3 separate regions of the Homo sapiens genome follow, and regions 1 and 3 are each linked to region 2. Evidence: fine-mapped expression QTL. A gene starts in region 2. Each other region holds a variant in brackets. All regions are shown on one strand. Distances are from middle to middle.

The links. PIP is the estimated chance that this variant, and not a neighbour inherited with it, causes the effect. A credible set is the group of variants that fine-mapping cannot tell apart.
Region 1: its variant is the best candidate, but not a certain one, in a credible set for the expression of UBASH3B in lung (TOPMed, PIP 0.60).
Region 3: its variant is the best candidate, but not a certain one, in a credible set for the expression of UBASH3B in whole blood (INTERVAL, PIP 0.89).

What each region holds. Positions count from the first base shown.
Region 1 is chr11:122,825,670-122,836,149 of GRCh38, reverse strand. No RefSeq gene overlaps it. Among named protein-coding and RNA genes, the nearest start is that of CRTAM, 7.6 kb to the left of the region's middle. RefSeq lists an enhancer at 3,302-3,974. The variant T/C (reference allele first, on the strand shown) is at 5,052.
Region 2 is chr11:122,651,744-122,662,127 of GRCh38, reverse strand. It overlaps UBASH3B (ubiquitin associated and SH3 domain containing B), which reads right to left and starts at 6,406. Exons shown (of 14, transcript NM_032873.5): 1 at 5,918-6,406. The coding sequence starts at 6,078. RefSeq lists a silencer at 5,747-5,796 and an enhancer at 6,000-6,501.
Region 3 is chr11:122,813,098-122,823,577 of GRCh38, reverse strand. UBASH3B (ubiquitin associated and SH3 domain containing B) reads right to left here. Exons shown (of 14, transcript NM_032873.5): 14 at 9,105-10,480. Among named protein-coding and RNA genes, the nearest start is that of CRTAM, 20 kb to the left of the region's middle. RefSeq lists enhancers at 9,770-10,377, 10,378-10,480. The variant TC/C (reference allele first, on the strand shown) is at 6,196.

The sequences.
Region 1 (10,480 bases), 170 kb before region 2:
GGACATTAAGAACGGTTGGTGGGGGAAATGCTACAAGGTGAACTGGTGGACGACATACATGTGTGCTTTCCAGGGTCCCTGTTCTCATTACCCCCACTTCAGCCTGCAGCTCATGTAGTATTCAACAGGAGAGGGCAGCAGATTGTGGCTGCTCAGTGAATTGGGAGAAAAAGACGAGGTTGGAAGGTAATAAGTGGTCTACCTATTTTCTAATGGGAAAGAGTCTACTGAACAGTATGTGGGAGACCTCACAACTGATAGCTAGTTTGTCATTTTGGTCTCCGTTTTATGAAATCTTCATATTATGTTTCAATACTAATAGGAAATAACATTTGGTGGGGTGGCAGAGGGGGGACATATTTTGGAGAAATAAACAAACATCCTCTCTATTTTTCATCGTCACCCTTGTCAACCTGAGTTTTGGGGGTGGGGGGGTGCAAACATGAAAAATAAGACATTTATTAAATAGGCTAAAGATGAACTGTTTTAAGGGTCAGAAAACAGGGGATTTCCTTATGTCTAGAAGCCACTGGGTTTTTTTGTTGCATTTACAAAAGGGGCCTACACTTTCTTCTTGACCTTTCACAGATTCTGTGAAGAATCGTGACCTTTCCCAAGGTCAGAGTAAGAGGTGGACTCGCCTGCATCTACCAGAAGATGCCTCAGATAACTCACACCAAGTGTTGAGGTTTTCTGAGCACTGCTGTAAAACTTGCACAAAGTGACTGTGGAGTTTCTAAGCCAGAGCAGCAGCCTTTGAAATTAATTATTGATTCAGAGAGAAGTTTCCTAGCAGTAGTGGGAGCTTAGTGGGACGAGCATGGGAGTGAGTAGCAGACAGACCCAGGCTTGTCCCCTAGGCCCTGTCACTAGCAGCTGTGTAGCACTAAGCACACTACCTGCCTGTTGGAATCAGTTTCCTCACTTGTAAAATGGGAAGAATAATTACAGCCTGAGGTGACTGTCCAGGAATCATAAGGCAGGAGCTGAGAAAGTTCGACTGTAGCATTTTTAAAAATGAAGAATTGGCCGGGCGTGGTGGCTCACGCCTGTAATCTCAGCACTTTGGGAGGCTGAGATGGGTGGATTGCCTAAGCTCAGGGGTTTGCAACCAGCCTGGGCAACACGGTGAATCCCTATCTCTACTAAAATACAAAAAATTAGCCAGACTACGGTAGCTGTAGTTCCAGCTACTTGGGAGGCTGAGGCAGGAGAATTGCTTGAACTTGGGAGGCGGAGGTTGCAGTGAGCCGAGATTGCGCCACTGCCCTCCAGCCTCGGCGACAGAACGAGACTCTGTCTCAAAAAAAATAAATAAAATTTAAAAAACCCAAAGAATTAAGAAGTTTGCCTGAAGTGACACAGTGAGTCAGTGATACACACACACACACACACACACACACACACACACACATTTTTCTTTGTCTATGAGATTCCTTTGAAGGACTTCAAATTTTTATACTTGCCCTCGGTGGAAGAGAACCAGCTCACCCGGGGCCACACCTTCTTTATGGGGCACTCATGGATGGTTAAATTGAAAATATTATAATACCCAGAGCACCCAGCATCTTGGCACAAAAAACATTCTCCATAAATCTGCAGACCTCAGGTGGCTGGAGCAGCATCTCATCCCCACAGGAACCATGGTAGGTTGGGTGTGCCGGGAGGAGGAAAGGCATCATTCACCTTTTGTTAAGACTTCTGCCGAAAAAACCTACTATTGTGAACCTGGGCTTTCGTGAGGGTAGAAACTTTATTTACTCTAGTGAAATAGATCATTCTGAAAACAACCCAAATATGAGCTGATTTCAGAAGGCAATTGTGGTTTCGGAGAGTATACCACAGGATAGCAAGGGCCAGCTTCAGGCCCCAGCTCATGGAGCTCTGCCCAGATAAGTGACCAGCCCTGGCGTCTTCATCTATAAATGAGATTAGATGAAAGTTGTGGTTTCCAAACTGTATTCTGAAGAACCCAAGTATCCCCAAGACACCTCAGGCTTCTGCAATATTTTCATTGAAGTTTCTTTTAAAAAACATTTTCCATGATTAGTCCAGGCTCTGGAACCAGGCTGACATGGTCCTGGTCTCAGCCCTAACACTCATGAGCCGTGTGACTGTGTGTGAATTATTGAATCTTTCTAAGATTCAACTTCCTCTTTCATAAATCGGGAATAATAGTTTCTACCGAATAGAGTTGGTGAGAAGATTTAAAAAGCTTACACATGTGAAGTACTTAGAAAAGTGTCTGATAAATACAAGCACTCAAATGCTAGCTGTTACTTTGCTGGCCACTGGATGCCACCAATCTATGAATTGTTATGTCAGGTAAAATAGTTTTGATGCTGGATTCTGTGGATTTAGAATAAAATCCAAATGTTTCACCGTGGTCTATGATGAGATCAACCCACTTTTTCTGCAAGGGGCCAAGTATAAACATTTAAAATAGTTTTACTTCTCAACTCTGCCCTTGTATCCTGGAATAGCCATAGGCAATATGTAAATAAGTGAATGAGGCTGTGTTCCAATAAAATTTTATTTATATATACTGGAACTCTAATTTCATATATCAATCTCTTTATTCTTTGCTTTTTCCCCCAAAGATTTGAAAAGCTAAAAATCATTCTTAGCCTGCAGCTGTACAGGCAGGCTGTGGGCCAGATTCTGCTCACGAGTGAGATTCTGCACAATGAGCAATACTTTGCTGACCCCTGGTCTGTAAGACCCCATGTCTTTATAAGCCCCCCACTTTCTATCATGCTTACTACACTTTAGCTCCCCAGCCTCTTCTGTTCTAACCCAGCTAGTGTCTTCCCATGTGAGGGCTTCTGTATACACAGCTTCCTGATACCCTCCTCGTTTAGGTCTTCAGCCCAACCAGCTCCTGCTCAGTTTTAACTGTTGGTTTCATCATCACCTGTTCAGGGACGCCATGCCCTAACTAAGAGTGTAACCCCTGCCCCACATCCCTTCAAAGTTACTTTCTATCATATTACCCAGTTTATTTCCTAAAGAGCATTTATCAAAATCTGTAATTATCTTGTTTATTTATGTATTCATTCTCTGTCTCCCACTCCATCAGAGCAGGGGCCTTGCATTCTTTTTTGCCACTATAGCTCCAGCCTGCCACTCTGCTGGAAATAGTGTTCAATAAGTATTACAGAATGATGAATGAATCCACAAGCTCAGTATCTTAGTTTCATTCATTGAGTTGATAATACCTGATCTCCTTACTTTGTAAAATTGTTATGAGGATCAAATGAGGAAGTGTTTTTTTTTTTAATTATAAAGAGTTATACGAAGGGAAGTGGTAAATCATTAAGGCAACTTTCATGCGTGTCTGTGTGAAGAGACCACTAAACAGGCTTTGTGTGAGCAATAAAGCTTTTAATCACCTGGGTGCAGGCGGGCTGAGTCCGAAAAGAGAGGCAGCAAAGGGAGATAAGTGTGGGGCCGTTTTATAGGATTTGGGTAGATAAAAGAAAATTACAGTCAAAAGTGGGTGTTCTCTGGCGGGCAGAGTGGGGGTCACAAGGTGCTCAGTGGGGGAGCTTTTGAGCCAGGATGAGCCAGGAGAAGGAATTTCACAAGACAATGTCATCAGTTAAGGCAGGAACAGGCCATTTTCACTTCTTTTATGCTGGAATGTCATCAATTAAGGCAGGAACTGGCCATCTGGATGTGTATGTGCAGGTCACAGGGGATATGATGACTTAGCTTGGGTTCAGAGGCCTGACATTCCTGTCTTCTTATATTAATAAGAAAAATAAAACGAAATAGTGGTAAAGTGTTGGGACGGTGAAAATTTTGGGGGGTGGTATGGAGAGAGAGAATGGGCGATGTTTCTCAGAGCTGCTTCGAGCGGGATTAGGGGCGGCGTGGGAACCTAGAGTGGGAGAGATTAAGCTGAAGGAAGATTTTGTGGTAAGGGGTGATATTGTGGGGTTGTTAGAAGGAATATTTATCATTTAGAATTATTGATGATGGCCTGGATACAGTTCTGTATGAATTGAAAAACTAAATGGAATAAGAGAAGGAGAAAAACAGGTATAAAAGGTCTAAGAATTGGGACGACTCAGGACATCTGATTAGAGAGAGCCTAAGGAGATTCAGCATAGTCCTGCCAGCAAAGATTATTTATTTACTTCAAGAGTTAAGAGTGGCAGTTTGGGGATAGCACCAGGAGATATCAGCTGTGATGGCTTGGAGAAACAGTGTAAACCGGCAGTGTAAACAAGAGCAGGGCATGTATGAGTAGTTGAGAATGGTGAATAGGAGTATGACTAGAGAGAAGATAGTAGGGATGACAAGTTTTTTGGGGGCACAGTCTAAGTTGGTCTGGTGTCTGGAATGAGACTGGGGCCTAATAAAAAGGAGTGTCTATACAGGAGCTCAAATGGGCTGTACCTTGTAGCATTCTGAGGACAGGTCTGACTTCTGAGAAGGTAAAGTGGTAAAAGTATTGTCCAGTCCTTTTTAAGTTGGTGGCTGAGCTTGGTGAGGTGTGTTTTTAAAAGACCTTTAGTCCGTTCTACTTTTCCTGAAGACGGAGAACCGTAAGGGATATAAAGGTTTCACTGAATACCAAGAGCCTGAAAACCTGCTTGGCTGATTTGACTAATAAAGGCTGGTCTGTTATCAGACTGTATAGAGGTGGGAAGGCTAAACTGAGGAATTATGTCTGACAGAAGGGAAGAAATGACTGCGGTGGCCTTCTCAGACCCTGTAGGAAAGGACTGTACTTAACTAGTGAAAGTGTCTACCTAGACTAAGAGGTATTTTAGTTATCTGACTCGGGGCATGTTGAGTAAAGCTAATTTGCTAGTCCTGGGTTGGGGCAAATCCTCGAGCTTGATGTGTAGGGAAGGGAGGGGGCCTGAGTAATCCCTGAGGGATAGTAGAATAGCAGATGGAACACTGAGAAGTTATTTCCTTGAGGATAGATTTCCACGATGGAAAGGAAATGAGAGGTTCTAAGAGGCAGGCTAGTGGCTTGTACTATAGCATAGCCTGCCTTTGCTGGTGTGTGGCAATTAGGCCTGGTGGAACCGCCA[T/C]CAATAAATCAAGCGTGATCAGGGTGAGGAACAGGAAAGAAGGAAATATGGGGAAATGGGGTGAATGTCAGGTGGATCAGAGAGATACAGTCATGGGGGTCAGGTGTGGTATCAGGAATAACGTGGGAGGCTGGATTGAAGTCCAGGCCAGGAACAATGGTAATTGTGGGACTTAACAAAGAGTGAGTACAGCTGAAGGAGCCGGGGAGCAGAAAGCATATGCATCAGGTATGAGGAAGAAAATAGATTTTGGAAGTTATGAGAAATGTAGAGAGTGAATTGAGCATAGTTTGTGATTTTTAGGGCCTCTAAAAGTATTAAAGCAGCGGCAGCTGCTGCACACAGACATGAGGGCTAGGCTAAAACAGTAAGGTCAAGTTGTTTGGACAGGAAGGCTACAGGGTGCGGTCCTGGCTCTTGTGTAAGAATTCTGACCACGCTAACCATGCCTAGGAAGGAAAGGAGTTGTTGTTTTGTAAGGGATTGAGGTTTGGGAGATTAATCGGACACGGTCAGCAGGGAAAGCACGTGTGTTTTTATGAGAATTATGCCGAGATAGGTAACAGATGAGGATGAAATTTGGGCTTGACTGAAGTAATGGGGGCTGTCTGTGAAGCCTTGCGGCAGTACAGCCTAGGTAATTTGCTGAGCCTGATGGGTGTCAGGGTCAGTCCAAGTGAAAGCGAAGAGAGGCTGGGATGAAGGGTGCAAAGGAATAGTAAAGAAAGCATGTTTGAGATCCAGAACAGAATAATGGGTTGTGGAGGGAGGTATTGAGGATAGGAGAGTATATGGATTTGGCACCACGGGGTGGATAGGCAAAACAGTTTGGTTGATAAAGCGCAGATCCTGAACTAACCTGTAAGGCTTGTCTGGTTCTAGGACAGGTAAAATGGGGGAATTATAAGGAGAGTTTATAGGCTTTAAAAGGCCATGCTGTAGCAGGCGAGTGATAACAGTCTTTAATCTTTTTAAATCGTGCTGTGGAATGGAATCTTGGCATTGAGAGGAGTAAAGGTGATTAGGTTTTAATGAGATGGTAAGGGGTGCGTGACCGGTCGCCAAGGAGGGAGTAGAGGTATCCTATACTTGGGGGTTAAGGTTGGGGGATACAAGAGGAGGATGCAAAGGAGGCTTTGGATTGGGAAGAAGGGCGGCAATGAGATGTAGCTGTAATCCAGGAATAGTCAGGGAAGCAGATAATTAAGTTAAAGTGTCTCAGCCTAATAAGGGAACTGGGCAGGTGGGGATAACTAAAAAGGAGTGCTTAAAAGAGTATCGTCTAAGTTGGCACTAGAGTTGGGGAGTTTTAAGAGGTTTAGAAGCCTGGCTGTCAATACCTACAACAGTTATGGAGGCAAGGGAAACACGCCTTTGAAAAGAAGGTAATGTGGAGTGGGTAGCCTCCGTATTGACTAAGAAAGGGACGGACTTACCTTCTACTGTGAGAGTTACTTAGTGTCTGTGTTGGTCCTGTAGGCTTCTGAGGCGATCAGGCGGTGTCAGTCTTCAGCTGCTAAGCCGAGAAGATCTGGGAAGGAGTCAGAGAGCCTTGGGCCAGAGTTCCAGGGGCTCTGGGAGTGGTTGCCAAGTGAGTTGAACATTCTGATTTCCAGTGGGGTCCTGCACAGATGGGATGTGGCTTAGGAGGAATCCTGGGCTGTGGGCATTCCTTGGCCTGGTGGTCAGATTTCTGGCACTTGTAGGAAGCTCCTGGGGGAGGAGGTTCTGGAGGAATGCCTGGCCGCTGTGGTTCAGGCGTTTGGAAGTTCTTGTTTGCTGGAGATGTGGCTGGGGTTTGTCTTACAGTGGAGGCAAGGAATTGCAACTTTTTTCTATTATTGTATACTTTGAAGGTGAGGTTAATTAAATCTTATTGTGGGGTTTGAGGGCTGGAATTTAATTTTTGGAGTTTTATTTAATGTCAGGAGCAGATTGGGTAATAAAATGTATATTGAGAATAAGACAGCCTTTTGACCTTTTAGGGTCTAGGACTGTAAAGCGTCTCAGGGTTGCTGCCAAACAAGCCATGAACTGGGCTGGGTTTTTTTTTTTTTTTTAATACTTTAAGTTTTAGGGTACATGTGCACATTGTGCAGGTTAGTTACATATGTATACATGTGCCATGCTGATGCGCTGCACCCACCAACTCGTCATCGAGCATTAGGTATATCTCCCAATGCTATCCCTCCGCCCTCCCCCCACCCCACAACAGTCCCCAGAGTGTGATGTTCCCCTTCCTGTGTCCATGTGATCTCATTGTTCAGTTCCCACCTATGAGTGAGAATATGTGGTATTTGGTTTTTTGTTCTTGTGATAGTTTACTGAGAATGATGATTTCCAATTTCATCCATGTCCCTACAAAGGACATGAACTCATCATTTTTTATGGCTGCATAGTATTCCATGGTGTATATGTGCCACATTTTCTTAATCCAGTCTATCATTGTTGGACATTTGGGTTGGTTCCAAGTCTTTGCTATTGTGAATAATGCCGCAATAAACATACGTGTGCATGTGTCTTTATAGCAGCATGATTTATAGTCCTTTGGGTATATACCCAGAAATGGGATGGCTGGGTCAAATGGTATTTCTAGTTCTAGATCCCTGAGGAATCGCCACACTGTCTTCCACAATGGTTGAACTAGTTTACAGTCCCACCAACAGTGTAAAAGTGTTCCTATTTCTCCACATCCTCTCCAGCACCTGTTGTTTCCTGACTTTTTAATGATTGCCATTCTAACTGGTATGAGATTGTATCTCATTGTGGTTTTGATTTGCATTTCTCTGATGGCCAGTGATGGTGAGCATTTTTTCATGTATTTTTTGGCTGCATAAATGTCTTCTTTTGAGAAGTGTCTGTTCATGTCCTTCGCCCACTTTTTGATGGGGTTGTTTTTTTCTTGTAAATTTGTTTGAGTTCATTGTAGATTCTGGATATTAGCCCTTTGTCACATGAGTAGGTTGCGAAAATTTTCTCCCATTTTGTAGGTTGCCTGTTCACCCTGATGGTAGTTTCTTTTGCTGTGCAGAAGCTCTTTAGTTTAATTAGATCCCATTTGTCAATTTTGTCTTTTGTTGCCGTTGCTTTTGGTGTTTTAGACATGAAGTCCTTGCCCATGCCTATGTCCTGAATGGTAATGCCTAGGTTTTCTTCTAGGGTTTTTATGGTTTTAGGTCTAACGTTTAAGTCTTTAATCCATCTTGAATTAATTTTTGTATAAGGTGTAAGGAAGGGATCCAGTTTCAGCTTTCTACATATGGCTAGCCAGTTTTCCCAGCACCATTGATTAAATAGGGAATCCTTTCCCCATTGCTTGTTTTTCTCAGGTTTGTCAAAGATCAGATAGTTGTAGATATGCGGCGTTATTTCTGAGGGCTCTGTTCTGTTCCATTGATCTATATCTCTGTTTTGGTACCAGTACCATGCTGTTTTGGTTACTGTAGCCTTGTAGTATAGTTTGAAGTCAGGTAGCGTGATGCCTCCAGCTTTGTTCTTTTGGCTTAGGATTGACTTGGCGATGCAGGCTCTTTTTTGGTTCCATATGAACTTTAAAGTAGTTTTTTCCAATTCTGTGAAGAAAGGCATTGGTAGCTTGATGGGGATGGCATTGAATCTGTAAATTACCTTGGGCAGTATGGCCATTTTCACAATATTGATTCTTCCTACCTGTGAGCATGGAATGTTCTTCCGTTTGTTTGTATCATCTTTTATTTCCTTGAGCAGTGGTTTGTAGTTCTCCTTGAAGAGGTCCTTCACATCCCTTGTAAGTTGGATTCCTAGGTATTTTATTCTCTTTGAAGCAATTGTGAATGGGAGTTCACTCATGATTTGGCTCTCTGTTTGTCTGTTGTTGGTGTATAGGAATGCTTGTGATTTTTGCACATTGATTTTGTATCCTGAGACTTTGCTGAAGTTGCTTATCAGCTTAAGGAGATTTTGGGCTGAGACAGTGGGGTTTTCTAGATATACAATCATGTCATCTGCAAACAGGGACAATTTGACTTCCTCTTTTCCTAATTGAATACCCTTTATTTCCTTCTCCTGCCTAATTGCCCTGGCCAGAACTTCCAACACTATGTTGAATAGGAGTGGTGAGAGAGGGCATCCCTGTCTTGTGCCAGTTTTCAAAGGGAATGCTTCCAGTTTTTGCCCATTCAGTATGATATTGGCTGTGGGTTTGTCATAGATAGCTCTTATTATTTGGAAATACGTCCCATCAATACCTAATTTATTGAGAGTTTTTAGCATGAAGGGTTGTTGAATTTTGTCAAAGGCCTTTTCTGCATCTATTGAGATAATCATGTGGTTTTTGTCTTTGGCTCTGTTTATATGCTGGATTACATTTATTGATTTGCGTATATTGAACCAGCCTTGCATCCCAGGGATGAAGCCCACTTGATCATGGTGGATAAGCTTTTTGATGTGCTGCTGGATTCGTTTTGCCAGTATTTTATTGAGGATTTTTGCATCAATGTTCATCAAGGACATTGGTCTAAAATTCTCTTTTTTGGTTGTGTCTTTGCCCATGGGCTGGGTTTTTTACATTTGATGAAAGAGCCTAAACGCTTACTGATTTGGGAGAGGTCTGATGAAGAAAAAGGAGCATTAACTTTGACTATGCCTTTAGCTTCAGCCAGCTTTTTAAGAGGAAATTGCTAGGCAGGTGGGTGAGGGCTACTCACAGAATGAAACTGTAAACCTGACCGGGTGTGAGGAGGGGAGGTGATAAAAAGATTATAGAGTGGAGGAGCGGAGGCTGAGGAAGAATTGGGACTTAGCTCGGCCTGGCGAGGAGCAGCCTGGGGAGGAGGGGAGAGGTCAGATGGATCTGTAGAAAGGGAAGATTAGAAAGACTCAGCAACGCTTGGGGTTGGGACTGAGGGGACAGGTGGGAGGGAAAGAAGGAAGATTTGGGACAAGTTGCACTGGGCACAGAGACTAGGGAGGGACCGATGTGTAAAAGAATGCCTGGATGTCAGGCACCTCAGACCATTTGCCTATTTTTTGACAAAAATTATTTAGGTCTTGTAGGATGGAGAAATCGAAAGTGCCATTTTCTGGCCATTTAGAACTACTGTCGAGTTTGTATTGGGGTCAAGCGGCATTGTAGAAGAAAATAAGGCATTTAGGTTTTAGGTCAGGTGAGAGTTGAAGAGGTTTTATGTTCTTAAGAACACAGGCTAAGGGAGAAGAAAGAAGGAGGAATGGAGGGTGGAAGGTTGCCTATAGTGAAGGAGGCAAGTTTAAGGAAAAGGGAGAGTAGAGACACAGAGGGAAGTGGTTTGGGGGTTCTTACCTTCCAGAGAAGCAGGAAAGGGGTCAGGGCACAGAGATACGAGGTTGGGGCACAGAAATAAGGTATCAGGGTGCAGAGATATAAGAGGTTGGGGCATGGAAATAAGGGATCGGGGCACAGAGATATAAGA
Region 2 (10,384 bases):
CGAGACCAGCCTGACCAACATGATAAAACTCTGTCCCTACTAAAAATACAAAATTAGCTGGGCATGATGGCACATACCTGTAGTCCTAGCTACTTGGGAGGCTAAGGCAGGAGAATCACTTGACACCTAGGAGGCAGAGGTTGCAGTGAGCTGAGATCACGCCATTGCACTCCAGCTTGGGCAACAAGAACGAAACTCTGTCTCAAAAAAAAAAAAAAAAAGAAAAAAAGCATATCAAGGTATTTTTTTTTTTGTTTTTTTTTTTTTTGGAACCAGGACCTCGTGTAGCCTGGAAAGTTCAGGAGACTTGCAGTTTAGCCTGAGGCTCTTATGGCAATGCAGTCCCTGCATACCAACTGTGTGACTCTAGACACGTCCTGAACTCCTCTAAGCCTCCAGTCTCATCTTAAAACAAAGCATATGTTGTGTGCTTTACCTCACAAGACTGCTGTGGGGTATCTAATACACATAAGAGCAATTTTTACAGTGTATAATAACACAGATAGAAGGGCGTGTTATGTGGGTGCACAGTCACAGCAGGTAGATTAGAGACTTCCTTGCCCTGCCCACCTATAAGAGCCCTTCAGCTCCAGGTGGGTTCCAGTTTTTCCTCTTTCTGTCTATCCAAGGCTGGGAAAGCAGCTGCAGCCCCCACGCCAGAGTCAGCTACATTTCAGAGATGTTGGGTTGGCCAAGTGTTCTCAGAGGATCCAATGTCAACCAACAGGTAAGCTGGAAAAAGCCAGGGAAACCAGATACTTTAATTCATGGGCTCCACATGCCGCTTCTCAACTCCTCATGCAGCCAACTTGGAGCTGCTTTTATCTTTGGGCAGTGAGGCATAGCTAACACAGCTTACTGTCCAAAGCCAAGTCAAAAGCGCTCATTCCAGCTCTTTCCTTCTGCCACTGCCTTGCTCTTTAATTTGGCATTGTTCAAATATTCTCAGTAGAAAAAAAAGGACAATCCAATAATACACGTAAATCCTCGCCAGACACCTCAACCACCATCTCACCTCCTCTCCCTTCTTGCAATCCAACACAATAATGCCCCAATCACATCTTGCATCCTGATCCTATCTTTAACTTTCCCAAGTTCTTTTCTGTCTGTTATCTCATTTTGTCTTTGGAAAGGCCCGTGACACATGACAGGTCTTGCCACGCACAGAAGCTGGTGAAGATATTAAGGAAAAGAGGTTAAATAGAAGACCTAAAAGGTGCAGATATCATTCAGAAGCTAGACCAGACCTTAGGACCTTTGATCCCTGCCACAGTGTCCTTCCCAAGACTATTATCTCTTAATCACTGGAAACATTAAAAAGCCATTTGTTGTAGACAAAGTTCTAGCCACCAGCAGCCTCAAAAAATAAAAATAATAAAAAAACTCATCAGGGTTGTATCAGCAAGGATTCCTCCAATTCAATTATTCAGTGACTTGCTCCAAGGCCCAGCATCAGCCCCAAGCTACAGAAGAGATGAGAGCCTGTCTCCCCAGAAACCAGAGGTCAGCAGGGGGATGACAGTGCTCTGACATCGGATCTGGCTGTGCAAAGTGATGGCTCTGATCTGAGTCCTGTCCCATCTTCTCCGGTGTTAGGCTCAGACCCTCTCCTGGCCTGTGAGGTCTCCTCTTCCTCAGGTCTTTGCCCCCAATACATTCTTTCTTTTCCTTCCAACCAACCTCACTAGCCTCAAGGAAGCTGGACCCTTATTTTTAGAACCCTTAAAACAGGGAAGTGCTAGTGGGCATAGAAAAAAGGAAGCGATTGGCCATTTTGACCTTTGAAAGGTTTCCTTCCTGATGCCTCCCGAACACCTCCTTAACTTGGACTTGCACACGAGCGCACACGCACACACACACCGTGAAATCGCCACTTCTCAGTCCTCCATGAGGCAAATTCTCCTATAGCAGTGTCTAAGTTGGACTGAAGTTCATATAGTGGAATGGAAAAAACCTAGCCCAGCTCCAGGGAGTAATGAGCTAGAGAGAGCACACCCTGAGGTCACCCTGCTTGAGCCAGCCCTGCAGCCCTCTGGTCCTCTTAGCTCTGTCAAGCACTTAACAAGCATGCAGTCATTAATTGCGTTCCCCTCAGAGGGCAACAGCATGGCCCTGAGGGGACTAAGTGACTTTTGCAAGACCACAGCACAGTGCAGCCCAGCACGGGCTGGGTGGGATCCAGCCTTGCTGGCCTCAACCCTCTCTGCCAGCCCACCAAGAGCCTGGCCTGAGTGCCCCTTCTTGGTGCCGCACACCACCAGACCCAGTTACACCCATAGGGGAAACTAGAGCTGTCAGCCCTGGCTGCTGTCACTCTGTCAAAAGGGCCTAGAGCTGTCAGCCCTGGCTAATGTCAGTCTGTCAAAAGGGCCAGGTTTGAGACAACCATCTTACCCCTTCTTAAAGCATCACATCCAAGTCTTCTAGACCCAGGAGACCATCACTGCTCTTTGGGGCTTTGGATTTTCATTATGCTCAGCCCTCCAGGCATAAAGCTCAAGAGAGAAGCTTCTGATGAGCTAAGCCCGATGCCCTTGCTCTTTCTTCTCAACTCTCAAAAATGAAGTTAAATGCCTGTTCTCTGAAGCCTCCGAGGGCCCCTCTTCATACTGGTCTAAGTTACTGGGGGGAAGGCCGACCACATCAGCCTTTCTGGGTTGAAGTAGAGGAGGGAAGCAAGCCTGGGCAAGGAGTCCAACTAGATCAGGTGACCTCCAGGACCTTCACTCCCTTCCAGGCAGAGAATTTAAGAAAAAGAGCAGCAAACCCAACCTCCCTCTCTCCAGGCCTGCTCTTGTTACCTCTTTGGTAAAGAGGGGCAGTGCTAGTAGTAATATAATAATAGCTGTGATAGGCTAAATAATGATCCCCCAAAAGACACCCACATCCTAATCCCTAGAAGCTGTGAATGCCGCCTTATACATTTTTTTTTAAAGGACTTTGCAGATAATGATCTTGAGATGGGGAGATTACTCTGGATTATCCAAGTGGGCCCTAAGTACAACCACATGTATCCTTATAAGAGACATGCCAAGGAAGATTGGACACAGACAGAAAACAAAGACAATTTGACCACAAACGCAGTGATTGGATTGATGCAGCCACAAGCCAAAGAATGCCAGCCCCCAACAGAAGGTAGGAGAGGCAGGGAGTGGATTCCCCTAGAGCCTCCAGAGGGAGCACGGCCCTGCTGATGCCTTGATTTCAGCCCAGCGATACTGATTTTCAACTCCTGGTCTCTACAATTGTGAGAGAATAAATTTCTGCTGTTCTAAGCCACTCAGTTTGTGACAATTTGTTACAGCAGTCACAGGAAGCTAATACAGTAACTAACACTTCACGATTGCTCACTATGTGCCAGGAACTGTTCTAAGCATTTTACCCACATTCAATCATTTCTATCCTGGCCCTACTGGCCCTAGATGGTGTGAGGCCTGGGCTGTGCAGATAGAATACCTGGGTTTGAATCCCAGCTTCACTGCTTACTGTTGTGACCTTGAGCAAGTTATGCAACCCTTCTAAACCTCAGTTGCCCAATTCATAAAATGGGCATGTGGTACCTTCCTCATTGAGTTGCTAGGAGGATAAAATGGGTAATAAAGATATAAGTACTTAGAACAGTATGGAGTAAGTATTCAATACATGCTAGCTATTAGGAGACCTCAGGGGTTAAACAAGCCAAAAATGACCCTTATGCTAATCTGTCAAGACATGTCAAGACCTCCTGGACTCAGAGCAGGAGAAAAGATGTCCCTTTAAAGCTGATTTGAATTTGAATCTCAAATATGACTGAGGAGTTCAGTTAAGTATTTCTTCCCTTAATTAAGCAATTTAGGTTTTTAATGCTGGCCTTATTTCAAAAAAGGCAGTAGCCTGAGACTATGCTAATTCTGCAGCATTCCCCAGCTGACTTCCCCACTCCCACCTCCAGCTTTTTTTTTTTTTTTTTCTTGAGATGAAGTCTCGCTCTGTAACCCAGGCTAGAGTGCAGTGGTGCGATCTTGGCTCACTACAACCTCCACCTACTGGGCTCAAGCGATTCTCTTATCTCAGCCTCCCAAGTAGCTGGGATTACAGGCATGCACCACCCCACCCAGCTAATTTTTGTATTTTTAGTAAAGACAGGGTTTCACCATGTTGGCCAGGCTGGTCTCAAACTTCTGATCTCAAGTGATCCGGCTGCCTCAGCCTCCCAAACTGCTGGGGTTACACCCAGCCCCACCTCCAGTTTTTAAGGAGAGCTGTGCACATTGATCATCCACACCGACGACTTCACCTGAAGCGTCCACACCTGACACACCCCTGCAGAACCCACATTTTCTCCCTGTAATTCTGGTATCAGGAACTGGAGCCCTAGTATTAGGAAGTCGTATTGGGACGTCAGTGGAAGGCAGAAACCATCAGTCCATTTTGCAGCCTTCTAAGGCCACTCCAACGTGTCCCAGCAGCCTGGAGAATAACAAATTCAAGGGTCTACTTTGATTAACAGATTACAACCAAGTTAGTAGAGAATAAACAAGGTTTGCCCAGAGATAAGGGAGGGGAGACATAAAGTTATTGCCTGTAATCCCAGCACTTTGGGAGACCGAGGTGGGTGGATCACCTGAGGTCAGGAGTTCGAGACCAGCCTGGCCAACATGGCAGAACCCCATCTCTTCTAAAAATATAAAAATTAGCCCGGTGTGGTGGCGCATGTCTATGGTCCCAGCTACTCAGGAGGCTAAGGTGGGAGAATCGCTTGAACCTGGGAGGCGGAAGTTACAGAGATTGCGCCACTGCACTCTAGCCTGGCGACACAGCGAGACTCCGTCTCAGAAAAATAAATACATAAATAAAGTTATCACCTGAAAAAAAAATGTGAGAAGGGAAAAAAATAAAAAGGACTTTCATTTACTTGGCCCTCACTGATTAAGTTTGGCCAACTCTCCTGTTCAGGTGCTGTAATTCAAAGATGAAAAGAAGCTGCGCCCAGTCCGGACGCCAGGCCTTGTGTCCCCACCTAAGAAATCTGCACGGCAGGGATTAACCAGGGGAGAAGGGCCTGGCCGCTGGGCCTTGGCTTCCTCTTAGGCAGAGTTCCAGCCCCTGAGACTTGAGCCGACCGGCCTGAGACGACTCCGGCCGCCGCCACCCTATGCTGGCAAACAGGCCTCTCCCCAGCAGGCTCCAGGGGCAGCCACCTGCGCTCTCCCTGCCCTCCCCTACCCCACTCTCCTAGAGGAAGGATGAAGAACAGCTCCCCCTCCTTACTCTCAGGCACCCACAGATTTCTGAGCTGCCGTCACCACTGACGAGAACCCAGGTCCCCTGGAGGGATCGCTTCTCCTTCTGATTCCATCCTCCCCATCAATGAACACGCAGGAACACCCACGCTCCCGCTCCTCCTACTCCAGGGGGAGACCGAACCCGAGAGCGACATCCGGAGCTGGAAGCCGCTGCAACGGGGGCGCCGGCCTCCCTGCCCCGCAGTCTCCCGCCCTTTCCCAGACACCGGAGGATCCCAGACCAGCCCAGTATTCCAGACGGAGAGGGTGCCCGAGTCCTCCGCAGGGCCCCGCCTCCCTAGGCGCTCGGCGCTGGAGACCTAGGGGAGCGCGCGAGAGAAACGCTGAGCTCCACCCGGCTGGGGCGGAGGCTGAGCACTATACCCGGGACTCGAACCCCGCGCCCTCGTCCCCCAGCTTTAGGCATCCCACGGCGAGCCCTGGCCCAACGCCCCCGCGCCGCGTCTTCCCCCGCACCCCCGCCCGGAGCCGAGTCCCGGGTTGCCAGCGCGCCCATCCCGCCCCCAACAGGTCTCGGGCAGCGGGGAGCGCGCTGCCTGTCCCGCAGGCGCTGGGAGGCGAGCCGGAGCGAAGCCGAGGGCCGGCCGCGCGCGCGGGAGGGGTCGCCGAGGGCTGCGAGCCCGGCCACTTACGCGCGGGCTCTGGGGAACCCCATGGAGAGGAGCACGTCCAGCGCCGATCCATGCTTGATGGTGCCGGGGCGCTGTTGGCGGTTCCTCCGGGGGGTGACTTTGCTGTACAGCTCCTCTCTCGCAGCCATGCCGAGCGGACTGGGGTGGCCGTACTGAGCCATGGCTCAGCGGCCAGCCATCGCCAGGGAAGGAGCCCGAGCCGGATGGTTCGGGAAGGAGGAGGGAGTCGGGCTGGGCCAGGGGAGGGGGCTCGGGGACCCAGAGCCAGGCAGGAGGCGGCGGCAGCGGAGGCGGCGCTCCGAGCTTCCCCAGTGTCGGGACTCTGACGCTTCCTGGTGAGGCCACAGGAGCCAGAACGCCGGCAAGCGGCCGCTGCGGGACCAGCCTCAGCCACTCGGGCCCCCGGCTGCCCCCAGCTCTGCGCCTGCAGTAGCCCTGTCTCCTCCGCCCCCTTCCCTCTCCTCGCCTAGCAGTCCGGGAATTTGCAATGAGTAATTTTTGAATGGATCAAAAAGGAAAAGGAGCCTTGTGGGCTGGCCCTGACTTGCCTGTACCCGGGCCCCGCCCCTCTCTTAAAGCGGCCGCGCTGTCCGAGGCTGCTCCGTGCGGGCAAGAGCTGTAGTCGCGCTACTTGGAGACGGAGGATCCCAACCTTATGGGCTGCTTGTGTGCTTCACCTCCCGAGAGTCACCCCCGGCGCCCCAGCCCTCTCCTTGGCTGGCATACCCGCCCAGCTGGGCCTCAAGACAGGAGATCAACCCATCTCAAGTTTCATGTGATTCTAGATGCGGTTATTAATGGAAATTGGGTGAACTGGTGGATGATACTAATGGACCAGAAGGCCAAGCCGTAAGGCCTAGGTAAAAGGTTTTGCTTCTCAAAGATCCTGCAAAACCCAAAGGGTTGTTAGGACCATCGGAAGTTGAGTTCCCAATCAGCCGGCCAAGTGGCTGCACTAAAGACCTACTGCGCTCTACAAGGTTATGGTCAGTGACTGAATAGTGCCTTCCCGGTGGGGCAGAGGGGTTGGGGAGAAGGACCTCAGGTTCTCAGAGGTGGCAGGACCTGGGAGGGGACAAGAAAAGAGGGACAGGGCAGAAAGAAGAGGGAAGGGAAAAAGAAAGGAGGAAGGAGGAGGAGAAGAAGGAAGGGCTAGGAGGGTAGAGGAAGAAGGAACAGAGAAAACATACTTCCTAATTATAAGAGGTGTTCAAAAGGGAACGGGCTTATTTCATTAGGGAGTGGATATCCTGTCAATAAAAGGATTCAAAGACGGACCGAATCACCACTGCACAATAATAAGTGAATTGTATCATAGGCTGGACAAAACTACTCCCACTGCAAAGATGGTGGAAGCCACAACCATATTGATGCCCCATGCCCCACCTGGTGAATTTGGCTGGGGGATGCTAACCCTCTTTCGTTTGGAAACAAAGTCATTGTCTTCAGTCAGGGACAAGGGTCCCACTTGCTATAATGAAAGAGGCAATGAGTACACCCTAACTGATAGTCTTTTTTGGGTAATAATAATAATAAAACCTAACATTTATTGGGCTCTTGTATGTGCCAGTCATTGTGCTAATCGTAATGAATGAACTCACTGAAGTTTTATACTGACCCTAGGAGTGTGTTTAATCATTATCCCAGTTTTACAGATGAGAAAACTCAGCTCAGAGAGGTTGGGGAAGATCATAGAGCTGGTAAGTGCGTAGCTACAGCACTCGTATCCACTGCGGTGCCTTAGACAAGTTACTTCTCTCTACAGCCTAATTTCCTCATTGGTATGGACCGTGGTAACCTAACCTTGCACACACTGGGTTTTCCAGAAATGTCAGTCCGGGCCTGTCCCTGGTTGGAATATGGGGGAGGGATGGTGACCAGCACCCATGGAGTGGCTTTTTGAGGTTGCTTTATAAGGCCTGTGAAGGTTTTACCAGGGGAAATGATACAGTGTAACTCCCTGAGCCCGGAATTGGTTTCCTAAAGAATAGCCAGTGGTGTTTGGAAGCAGGGAGATAAGACAGCTGGAGCTTAAGCAACAATGTGTATTAATTCTGCCTCCTGCTGTACAAAGGATGAGGGAAAATTAATGCTTCCTGGGTAGTAGCTGCTTCCAGAGCAAAGGGGATATCCTGGAGACCTTGCAGAATGCTCTTCCAGGACATGGAGCAAAAAGACAAGACTGGGCTGGCAACACCATACCTAGTATTAGCCTCCTTGGATGTGTTCGGTAAAACATGCTGGATTTTATCCAGTATTCTGAATTGTTTCCAAATGCCTGGGCTGAAAGTCAAATGATCTGGATCTTAGTCAAGAGATAATAATGTATGTGAAAGCGCTTTGTAAACCATAAAGCGCTACATAAATGATAACTCAAATTTATTGAGTACTTACTATATGCTGGTGTTGTTCTTTGCTTCTTACATATGTGACTCAAACAATTCCTTGACAAGACTATGAACTAGGAACTACTTTACAAATGAAGGTGCTGAGCCAGAGGTCAAGTATCTTGTCCAAGGTCACATGGCTAGTAAATGGCAGAGCCAAGATTTGAACTCTTAACATTTGGCCAAACAACTAGTTAACGACCATTGTTATGATGATAAAAGGACACCAGCCTTTAAGATAGTTTTTTGACTCCATCTATGCCCCTTGACATAGAATTGCTGGATCTCTGTTTCTCCAGAAAAATTGAATTAATTGTCTTTCTCCCTGCCTTTAGGCAAACTGTAAGATAAAGGAAATGATGCATATAAAAATAGTTTTAGGTAGACTGGAAAAAGCACTATGAAAAACTAGGCACCTGAGATGCAAACTGTTTTTGTCTGGGACACTTTTACAGAAATCCCAGCTTGGCTTCCTCACTTGTCTTCAGCTCAGTGCAAACCCCTGTTTTATTTAGGACTCCTGCCATTTGTTCTGCACTGGGTTGGGGGGCTGGCAATTCAGATGCATTGTGCTTTAATTGTGTTGACGTTGAAAAGCTAGGAAAAGCTTCATAAATGTCTACACTGTTCTATTACAAAGAGAGAAGAGGGGGGCTGGGTGCGGTGGCTCACCCCTGTAATCCCAGCACTTTGGGAGGCTGAGGTGGGCGAATCACAAGGTCAAGAGATCGAGACCATCCTGGCCAACAAGGTGAAACCCAATCTCTACTAAAAATACAAAAATTAGCTGGGCATGGTGGCATGTGACTGTAGTCCCAGCCACTCCGGAGGCTAAGGCAGGAGAATCGCTTGAACCTGGAAGGCGGAGGTTGCAGTGAGCTGAGATCATGCCATTGCACTCCAGCCTGGTGACAGAGCAAGACTCCATCTCTAAACAAATAAATAAATTGAGAGAAGAGAAATGACTATTCATCTGGCAGTATATCTTACAGTGGCCAAAAGAAGTGAGATGGGAGTAGGGGTCTTGCACAGGGACAGAGCTGACACATCAGCATGAAGTTCCTCCCTCAGAAGGGAAAGCAAGTTGACATGTCTCCGTGTGTGGTCATGTCAGAATCCACTCTGGACCACAAAGCTCTCTTTGTTCATGTGAGCATGTTTAACCCTCCCTCATTGGCCCCTGCCATATTTTTGCTATGGTACATCCTCTCAGATGGCCAGAGGGAGACCCAGGATGGACCCAGTTGGCTGCACTCACAATTTCTGAAGCATGTCCTATATCTTCTCCTTCTCCTTCACTCTGTCCTTGAGGAACGGTCAAGTAATAACAATAAGAACATGCAGTAGGTCTGTAATTCTAGTACTTTGGGAGGCTAAGGCAGGTGGGCAGATTGCTTGAGCTCAGGAGTTTGAGACCAACCTGGGCAAAATGGTGAACCCCATCTTAATTAAAAATATAAAAATTAGCCCAGCATGGTGGTGTGTGCCTGTAGTCCCAGCTGCTTGGAGGGCTGAGGCAGGAGGATTGCTTGAACTTGGGAGGTCGAGGTTGCAGTGAGCCAAGCTGAGATGGCACCATTGCACTCCAGCCTGAGTGACAAAGTGAGACCCTGTTAAAAAAAACAAACAAGGCCTGGCGCGGTGGCTCATGCCTGTAATCCCAGCACTTCGGGAGACCGAGGCGGGTGCATCGCGAGGTCAGGAGTTCAAGACCAACCTGGCCAAGATGGTGAAACCCTGTCTCTACTAAACATACAAACAAATTAGCCAGGTGTGGTGGCAGGTGCTTGTAATCCCAGCTACTCGGGAGGCTGAGACAGAGAATGGCTTGAACCTGGGAGGCAGAGGCTGCAGTGAGCTGAGGTCACGCCCGCCACTGCACTCCATCCTAGGCAACCGAGCGAGACTCCGTCCCAAAACAAAACAAAACAAAAAAACAAACAAATAACAACAACAACAAAAACAGGCAGTAAAGTCTGCCCACTGTTTCAAATCCTAAAGGCTGGGGTGTTGCCTTGCCAAACAAAGGCAGCTTTGGAACTGCTGGGAATGACTTTCACCCCTAGACTTTAAGGGGATC
Region 3 (10,480 bases), 160 kb before region 2:
AACAATCTGGCCGTTCTTAGAGTTGTATATTTGCGGAACTCCTATGTCTGAGGTGAGTTCATTTGCATGCCTTTCCTCCTGTTAATCTGTGTATTGTCCATTTGTTTAGCACACTTGAACTTTCAGAGGAGGTGGGAAGTTCTCTTTGCTTTACAGATTTGGCACAACTGGCAGGATACTAAAACTGCTCTGCTCCTCTGGAAGCTACAATTGAGAGAACCTAGGACCTGATGAAGCTGGGAAAAGGTTAGGAAATTCTTATCAGGCAGTCCTATGGATCTTTACCTATGGGATCCAGTTGAGCAGACAGTAAGAGTCACCTCTTGTCTCTTTTTCTTTTCCAAAATTAAAATAACAGGAGAATTTTTTTTAAATTAGTGCTTTGAATCTGTGACTCTTGTAGACTTATCTTAGGCTTATTGATTATTGATCTATAAACTCCTATAAATGGTCTTTGTTCTTCTTGCTTTTGTATTTGGTGTGGTTTGTCATAAGGAGGAAAACCATAATAAGATTATCTTTTTGTCTTGTTTTTATGTCTTGAGAAACTTGGCTTTGTAATCAGCGAATTTATTCTCAGGTGCTACCTCAAAGGGAATAAATTATCAGGTTTATGCCAGGCAGGCAGCCAGTTGGCTGAGAGTCCAAAATGTCCGTTTATCTGAATGTGCCAGCTCTCAAGAAAATTTGTCTTAATTGTCTTAAACTTCATTGTCTTATTAACAATGAGGATCTTTGCTGTCTTAGGCTATCTTTGAAAGAGACTTTAGATCTTGAGAGGGACTGCATGTATCCTCCATAAAACTCAGTTCTTACATTTATTGGTTTTAAGTTATAAAAATTCTTACTGATTTTGAGTCACAATTGAGGCAGGAATACCTTTAGAGGTTTGGAAGCTATTTGTATGACTCTGGACACTCCTTAATGATCCTCCCCCTGCTGTAACTGTCTGATGGGTTCTTCTGCCTGCTGCACAAATAAAGACCATGACATTGCAATAAAGCAAGAGTTGAATTGATGTCAGGCTGGCCAGGCATGCCAGCATGGGAGATGGAGTTACTACTCAAATCAATCTCCTCTAAAATTTGGAGACTGGGGTTTTAAAGAATGATTTGGTGAGTAGTGAGTCAGAAGGTAGGCAGTGCTGATTGGTTGGGTTGGAGATGAAATCACAGGGAGTTGAAACTGTTTTCTTGTGCTAGTAGTTAGTTCCTGGGTGGAGGCCACAAGATCAGATGAGCCATTTTATCAATCTTGGTGGCATCAGCTGGTGTATCGGAATATGGGGAGTGCAAAAAACAAAACAAAACAAAACAAAAAGCTCAAGTACTGATTTCAAGTTTTACAACAGTGACTCCTAAACCATAATTTCTAATCCTGTGGCTAATTTGTTAGTCCTGCAAAGGTAGTCTAGTTTCCAGACAAAAAGGGAGTTTGTTTTGGGAAAGGCTGTTATCATCTTAGCTTCAAAGTCAAACTATAAACTAAGTTCCTCCCAAAGTTAGTTCACCCTACATCCAGGGATGAGCAAGGGCAGTCTGGAGGTTAGAAACCAGATGGAGTCAGTTAGGTCAGATCTCTTTCACTGTAATAATTTTCTCAGTAATTTTTGCAAAGGCAGTTTCAGTCTCTCTCTTTGGGTTTTATAACACCTTATTCTTAAGATGTGGGCTATGAAGATGGAAAAAGCACAATGACCACTCTAGCTTTTTCTTGCTGACATGTGGCATGATGGGAGTAGGAGCTGACTCCAAGGTAAGAGGAGTGGAACTGCCTTGCAGCTGTCTGCACACACTCAGGGTGCCTAATCGGGGTTTCAAGGCTTGCATGACAAAGGCATTAGTATTCTTCTCTATCGTTTTAGCACAGCATTTAAATGAGCTATAAAGTAAATAATGAGTTCTAGGGTAAGGAGTGAGAGTCCTAGCTTCAGAAGCCTTTGTGGAACTGATCTGAAGCTCTGAGGGATCCAGGTGAATAGCGCGAAGAATCAATCAGAAATGGGGTCTGTAGTAGAGAGATATTTGGGTCAGAGGTTATTAGAAAGACTGATTAGGATAGACAGGAAAGGGCAAATTTAAATATACCAACCCATATATTTTTAATTGGTTTCCTAGTCCTGAGACTAGATCAGTTCAGTTAAATAGCTGTTTACCATATCAGGAAGTGGCAGTGCAGATGGGCTAGGCTTCTGTATGTGATGACAGCAAACAAGCTTTTAATAGGAGGCATTTCTGTGGAAACAGAAGAAAAACAAAGGTTAATGTTGGGCATAATTTATTGAAACATTAGACTCAAAGCATCTTTAGTTATAGAGGAGGAAGGCAGTGGCAATCTGACATGTTTTTCTTGCCTGTACCACAAGGAATAAGCTTCAGCTTTCAGGGCCTCAGGGAAGATATAGCAGCAATTTCACTGAGTTCAAGTCAGAAAAATGAAAGAAAGATTTGAAAACATTAGTTTTGGGACCTGTAACCCAGAAAGAATTCAGGAATCAGTCTAAATTGCAGAAAATAATAAAAACTCAAAAGCAGTGGACAAGACTAGAATCTAACAACAGAGGTACTATAGCTTTCTCTGAAATACAGTTTGTCTCTCTCCAGTCCCCATTTTTATTAAAAACAAATTTGCTTGCAAAATAAGTGTTAGTCTTATCATACTTGGCATGAATATTTGCATAAAGTCAGCAAGAATAATTATTTGCCATATAGGCTTTTTTGAAAATTGACTTTAATGGAACTTTATTCCATAAGGAATTTCAGCTTAGATTTTTCAAAGCCTTGAGCCCAGCCATGGATTTATCTGTGCCTGCAAATATCAGTATGACCCTTGGGTGAATTCCTCTCCTTGAGGTTCCAAGATAACTTGGGGCTCCTGGGCTTGTCAGAAAGTGATATTGTTCACTTACCACAGATCGAGAACCCTGGACAGGGACTGCATAGAAAAGGTTTAAGGCCAGTGTTTACCAGGGGTTTTCTTGGCCCTATAAGTCAACTTTGATTTCTTAAAGCAGTCTGTTTGTATATGGAAGTATGCCATTACAGTCAAAACCTTGGTAAAATAATCAGTGTCTCCAGCGATGTCCTGTTATAAAAGCAAACATTATTATTACATGTAGGCAAATAACTATACTGCCATAAAGTTAAGAATACTCACAAATAGTTTCCAAATTCCGGAGAAATCAGGTAGAGAGAAAGAAATATGCTCCAAGGTTTTCTCACAGAGTATACTTTATTCAATTGATAAAAGCTGTAGTTAGCTCAAAAGAAAAAAAATTTTTCTTGACTCTAAAAACAAAACATAAAGAATCAGTAAATGTTTTAAACAAAAAATCATAAGAGATAATTTCAGTCTTCTATTAGTTCAGTCCATGCATTAACTCCTGTTCTGCTTGATACTGAATTAGCAAACCTCAAGAATATATTAGCTCTCCATGAAAGTACTGAAAATTTGTTTTTTCCCCCTCTATTCCAAGGACCATGGGAGCCAAGAAGCATCACAAGGGAAAATCATCTCCTTTTGTTTCATAAAACCATAGGCAAAAGCCTGTCAGTTTTGCAAGATGATGCCCAACAGACTGCCTGGGGAACAAATGAACATTTTCCATCCCAGCCAAAGCAAAATACATATAACAAAATAGACACTAGTCACCTTTCTCAGCACCTGATATTGACCTGGCAAGGCTCAAATTTGCCCCTGTTCATCCCTGTCATCTTTGATCCACTCAAGGTGGGGAGAGATGACCTTCAACTGCGAATTCAGTGGGTGATCTGTGGGCAAGATGAAGAGCAGATGGTCACCCTGTGTCAGACCTGTGGAGCTTCTGCTAACAATTGCTTCAGGGTTTACCTAATGTGACCAAATAAGGAGAGTTCTCCAAGTTAGGCCTGCTTGACTTCCATTAGCATTTTTTTCAGAGATCACCTCCACATATACAAACACAGACACAACAAACACAAGACAGACAGAAGACCTTCTAAACAAAGATCCCTAACCAATAATTCTAAGTATTCTTTCCAAACTAACCACCTACTCTCTTCCTGAGAAATCTCCCCAAAATCTTCCTGATTAAGGAAAAATCTCCTGAACCAAGACTCTTCCTACTATTTAGGGAGATTCAGCCAAGCCCCTTAAAGGAGCTGAACCAAGACCCCAGAAGAAGCCAAACCAATCAGGAGAAGAAAGGAGGTGCTGGAAGCACCTAGAATATGCACCAAATCAGACACCCCATGATAGGACCACAGACAGACATCTAATGATGGGGTTACAGTTATAGGACTTTTTCTCCATTGCAATGAAATCCATGCACCATGGATTGTCAATGCCCTGCCAGTAGAAACAGTGCCAGAGACAGCCTCCAGTCCAAGAGAATTAGGCAGCCTCTTGGGCTGGCCTCTAGATCCATTGCTGGAGAGGGGGCTACCAAACCACAAGCAGTAGTCACAAGGGTGATCCTGGATGAGCCCTCAAATTTGGAACTGCCCAATGTGTTCTTCCTGCCCACTGCACAAATAAAAACCATGGCATTGCAGTAAGGAAAAAGTTTAATTGATGTGAGGCCAGCCATGCCACATGGGGAGACAAAGTTATTACTAAAATCAATCTCCCCCAAAATTTTGGAATTGGAGTTTTAAAGGATAATTTGGTGTGTAGAGAATCAGAAAGCAGGGAGTGTTGATTGGTCAGGTAGAAGATGAAATCATAGGGGTTTGAAGCTGTCCTCTTGTGCTGTCAGTTCCTGGGTGGATGACACAAAATCAGATGACCCAGTTTATCAATTTGGGTGGCATCAGCTGGTGTATCAATCAATGCAGGGTCTGCAAAATATCTCAAACACTGATCTCAGATTTTACAGCAATGACTCCTAAGCCATAATTTCTAATCCTGTGGCTAATTTTTTAGTCCTACAAAGGCAGTATAGTCCCCTGACAAGAAGGGGGTTTGTTTTTGGAGAAGGCTGTTATTGTCTTTGTTTCAAAGTTAAACTATAAACTAAGTTCCCCCCAAGTTAGTTTGGCCTACACCTAGAAATGAACAAGGACAGCTTAGAGGTTAGAAGCCAGACAAAATTGGTTAGGTCAGATCTCTTTCACTGTAATAATTTGCTCAGTCATAATTTTTGCAAAGATGGACAACTTTTGTTTTCCTGTTTTGTCTTACTGACTGTTCTTTCTTTTTGATTCTCCATTTATCAGGGGCATGTAGGTTATCCCAGATTTCTTTGCTGCAGGCAGCCAAACAAAAAGTTGAGCGCCTCAAGAATATGGGTGAACTAAAATGTGGGTTTACATCCATTTGTGGCTAGCTAAGCTTTCCTTTCCTTGGTTGTCCTGTGAGAGTGGTCTGGATCTTGGAAAGGCCACCTTGGTTAAAGCCATAAAGGGGCTTATTAGTTGAGTCTTGAGTCACTTGTTGAATATACCTTTGGATTAAAATTTTGGTTTATATTCAGAGCATGTTAAAAACATTTTTTTTTTGTTTTATTGGTTTGCTTTCTGCCTTCTCATTTGAGCTAAAAAGGTACTTTGTACTCAAAAGAGAAATTTGATTATTAATTACCCTGAACCTCTAAAAACTTTCAGTATTTCTCTGTACCTGTCAATTCTCTCCCTTGTCTTACCTAAGAAACCATCCCTCTTAAAATGCAAACTTCAGGGAAAGAAAAGCCAGGAAATGAGAATGTTTGCTGTTTGCCCAAAACTGCTAATGATATACTTAAAAGATTTTTAAAAAGAGCATTATTCTCAGAAGTCAGCTTAATTAAAAGGTGATATTCAGACTATATATATTTTTAAGGCTTTTCTCCTCTTGTTGGGATCTTATTTCTCCCATGAGAACTTCTTAGTCAGCCAAATTATCCCACATTCCCCACCTTTTTTGTTGTTTGTTTGTTTGTTTGTTTTAGGCAGAGTCTTGGTCTGTCACCCAGGCTGGAGTGCAGTGGCTCCATCTCAGCTCATTGCAACCTCTGCCTCCCAGGTCCAAACAATTCTCCTGCCTAAGCCTCCCAAGTAGCTGGGATTACAGGCATGCACCACCACACCTGGCTAATTTTTGTATTTTTAGTAGAGACAGGGTTTCGCCATATTGGCCAGGCTGGTCTCGAACTCTTGACCTCAGCTGATCTGCCTGCCTTGGCCTCCCAAAGTGTTGGCATTACAGTCATGAGCCACTGTGCCTGGCCTTTTTTTTTTT[TC/C]TTTTTCCTTTTTGCTAACTAGAACGTCATTGGCCTTTTTGGAAAACTTCCAGACTGGCTCCTCTAAAACTTGTTTTACCAGTTATCATTTCTGTCTTTCCTTCCTTTTACCACTTTTGATCTTTCACCCAGTTCCCTTGTTACGTTCCCTTGGTACATTCCCTTCACGCCCCTACCTCTTTACATAGCCAGAACCAAGCCAATTGGGCTTTACATGTTTATTTCTGGCACAGTGAAGTATTTTCTTTCTTCAGGAAGAAGATTGTTTTTGGTCCTCAAACAACTTTCAAATAAACCCTCCAAAACAAAAAAACCAAAAACAGACACTTTGCTGATTTAAGCTTAAACAAATCCCAAGTACACTATTCGTTTTCTCTGGATGTGCAAGCAGCCTTTACGTACATCACAAAAGAGCAGAATGAGTTTGGGAATCTGTCAAGCAGAGAATGGCTGAGAACCAGCCAGAAGGCTAAATATAGCCTGGTCTTTTGTCAGATATGAACATTAGCTGTTATGTTTCCTCAGGAAGTAAACCCTGCCAAGGTAGTAGACAGTTGGGTTAATGAAAATCTGTATTCATGTCCTCGGTACAAATTTGCATTCAAGGCTTATTTTAAGATCTTATTAGCCTAACATATAATTACTTCAAAAAAATAGAGTCAGCTGGGTGCGGTGGCTCACGCCTGTAATCCCAGCACTTTGGGAGGCCAAAGCGGGTGGATCACCTGAGGTCAGGAGTTCGAGACCAGCCTGGCCAACATAGTGAAACTCCGTCTCTACTAAAAATACAAAAAAAATCAGCTGGGAGTGGTGGCAGGTGCCTGTAATCCCAGCTACTTGGGAGGCTGAGGCAGGAGAATCACTTGAACCCGGGAGGCAGAGGTTGCAGTGAGCCGAGATCACAACATTGCACTCCAGCCTGGGCAACAAGAGTGAAATTCCATCTTAAAAACAAAAACATAAAAACAACAACAACAACAAAAAATGGTCTATGGCTTTTAGAAGTGCAGATTCTAGTTTGAGCTGAATGTGCCCTCTCTCTTACCCAAATTCTCACTCTCTGGATCATTCTTGGTGCAACTCCTTGAGGTAGATGGTGGGTAGTAGTAAACCATGAAGGTGACATGGAGTTCAGGGCACTATACCCGAAAATATTGCATCTCAGCCTATTGAATAGTTTAAGATGAAGGAATCTGAGAAAAAAACAGGAGCAGAAAGGTCACTTTGACTGTTCTCCCCCGCCCCACCCTTCTCCCCTGAATCAGGTGATAAAACCTAGGAAGGACTCTAACCTTTCCTGACGCAGGTCCTGAGAACTTCATGTGAAAGGTGCCTTCCCTAGAGCGGGAGAAAATGAGCACCCTCATCTCTGAAGACAGAGGGACACCCAGGGGAATCTGAACACACAGGCCTCATTAAGTCCTCCCAGTTTATTACCATTAGATCATACTCTTAGTTCTATCACGTTTCTCCATGACTATCTATTCTTCATCAAATTTTGCATTGAAATATTCAGGTTTAACTAGTTTTCTTCAAATCTTCATTTCCTTATGAAGGCTTTTGTGTCATGTGAAGGAAAACAGGGAGCTTCACCCCCAAATATGGCTCCCTGGTATAATGAGTATTTTGGGTTTTTGTTTGTTTGAGTCTCGCTTTGTTGCCCAGGCTGGAGTACTGTCATGGCTCACTGTCAGCTAGACATTCTGGGCTCAAGCGATCCTCCCACCTCAGCCTCCTGACCAGCTGGGACCACAAGTGCACACCACCACACCTGGCTAATTTTTGTATTTTTTTGTAGTGACAGGGTCTTGCTATGTTGCCTAGGCTGGTCTCAAACTCCTAGGCTCAAGCAATTCTCCGGCTCTGATCTCCAAGAATACTGGGATTACAGGTGTGAGCCACCACACCCAGCTGAGTATTTTGAATTAAAGGCCCTTAGAGATCAACAGATGCTAAAAGAAGCCTTTCCCCTATCTACATAAAGACTGGACAGGCCCACCAAGGAGAACAATTGCTTTTCCTTCCTCTATCCCCTCTCAGTCCTCTACCTGTCCCAAAGCACAGGATGAGGTTATTCTCATATCTACCAAAGAAGGAAACAATTACTTCTGGTCCCTTCTCGGAGTTTCCATTGACTGAACTCACATCACAGGATGGAAGACTAAAGTCTGACAACAAACCTGGACAGACTTTTGTCCCAAATGACTGTCCACTCTGTAGGCCTGACCGACTTTGTCCCAGACCATTGTATGTTCTTCAAGTCCATTGAATTTCCTTAAAAATCATTTACTATCTGCCTAAAATCACCCACACCTCCCCATTCTCTTTCCCCTAAGATGTAGGGCATATAAGCATCTGTACCCCGTTGGGAGACTGGGCACTCACTCTGTGATACTCTACAAGCTCACGTAGTTAATAAATTTATTTATGCTTTTTCTATTAATCTGCCTCTTGTCAGTCATTTTCAGTGAACCTTTAGAGGGCAGAGGGAAAGCTTTCCCTTGGCCCCAAGACATGAAAAACTTGTATGCTTTTTCTTTTGTTAATCTATGTTTTGTTATAGGGGCCTCAGCCATGAACCTAGGATAGGTAGAAGGAAATATATTTTTTGTCTCCTAGTTTGCACATAGGGCAGGGGAAGCATTTTGAAGCTTGCTATTTTCACACAGAGTGGGTGTTCAGCTCCCCAGTCTGAATGGCATGGAGGCTTGATGCCTGGTCAGAAGGGTCCAGAGACACACAGTGCTGCTGGAGCATCCTCCCCTTCCATCAGCAGAAAGCGCCCTCTGGCCTTTTGAAAACAGAATCACACTCTGAATGCACATTTATGAAATAATAATGAACAAAGTAACATCTGAAAACATGATAGGAAGAGACCACTCAGAATTTAAAATGACATTGCTCTGGATCAACTGAGAAGTTTCTTTTTATTAAATCATCTATGAACCATTTAATGGAGATGCTCCTGAAAGGTGCATCTGTAATTACAATGGTGCCATAGCTGTATCAACAGGGGAGAGCTCTCAGCCAGGAAAGCACAAGTGCCACGGAGAGTTTACAAAGAATTTGGCAATACAGGTAGGTGTGGTTTTCCTATAACTACAAATAGTCTTCAAATAAATACACCTGAATCACATACAAAAAAAAATACAATAGCCTTATAAATGAGAAAGAAACCAATACACCTCTCCAAAATAACAGGTTTAGAATGATCTGTGTATAACCAAAATGCCTTGGCATGGTGTTTCCATCTTGAGTGGCAATCAAAGAAAGAAGCAGTACATATTTTCCATTATACACATCTATCCTGTACAGAGTCCATGATAGTTGAACAGCTGGAAAATTCCAATTTGTTGTGTAATGGCAGCTAAGTGTAAAGTATTTGCAAGAACTGATTGTATATTAAGTTCGACTAGTCATCACTATAATTTTAAACCTACATACACCAATCCTACTATTATTTGTACTTAAAAATGAAGTTATTTCATCTGCATTTACAATCTTTTTCCCTTTTCGCTTGAATTTTCATTATAGCTAGTCACTTTCCTAGGGAAATTCAATATGTTGAAGTATTAAAGAGAAGCAAATCCAATTTTAATTCTATGTTTAAAAATGAAAAGCTTCTGCTATCACCTAACAAAATATCCCCCATCACCTTTGTAAAGTGAACATTAACCTAAATAGATGTTAAATCGCTCTTTACCCCACCCTCCTCTGCCTGTCTCATCTCTCCCCGCAATGCAGCCTTTTAGACTAGTGCCTCTTCTTTCTCACACGTGTGCTGGATTGCAATTTAAATGCAAATAACCCTGCACCTCATTATCTAAGTTCGTGCAGACTCAGTAACAGTTGCCTGTGCTGAAGGCTGTGAAATCAAACGGAGGTTCATCTGTATTCTAACACATGGATTACTTAGAGTAATTTCAAAAGAGCAATTCATCACTGCTTTGAAATTAAACACTGGACTTGCAGAGTGCCTAGGTTACGGAGGAATGCCTTTCTTTTACCACATAGGGAAGCCTTTCCACAAAGGCAATGAGATAGGAACTTCTTTTACTGTAGCTGTTCAATTAGTTCCCAACAACACTAGGTAATTGAAATAAGAGACTTCATTTTAATACGAATACAGCTAGTTGAGTGGAAAAGACACACTTATGGTAATGTTAAGCACAATGACAAGACAATCTATATGCATTCCAAATACCACTAACAAGGAAATTATCAACAATGATTTACCAAACAGACATCACTCCAGAAGGCATATTTTTTATTTTTTATTTTTTG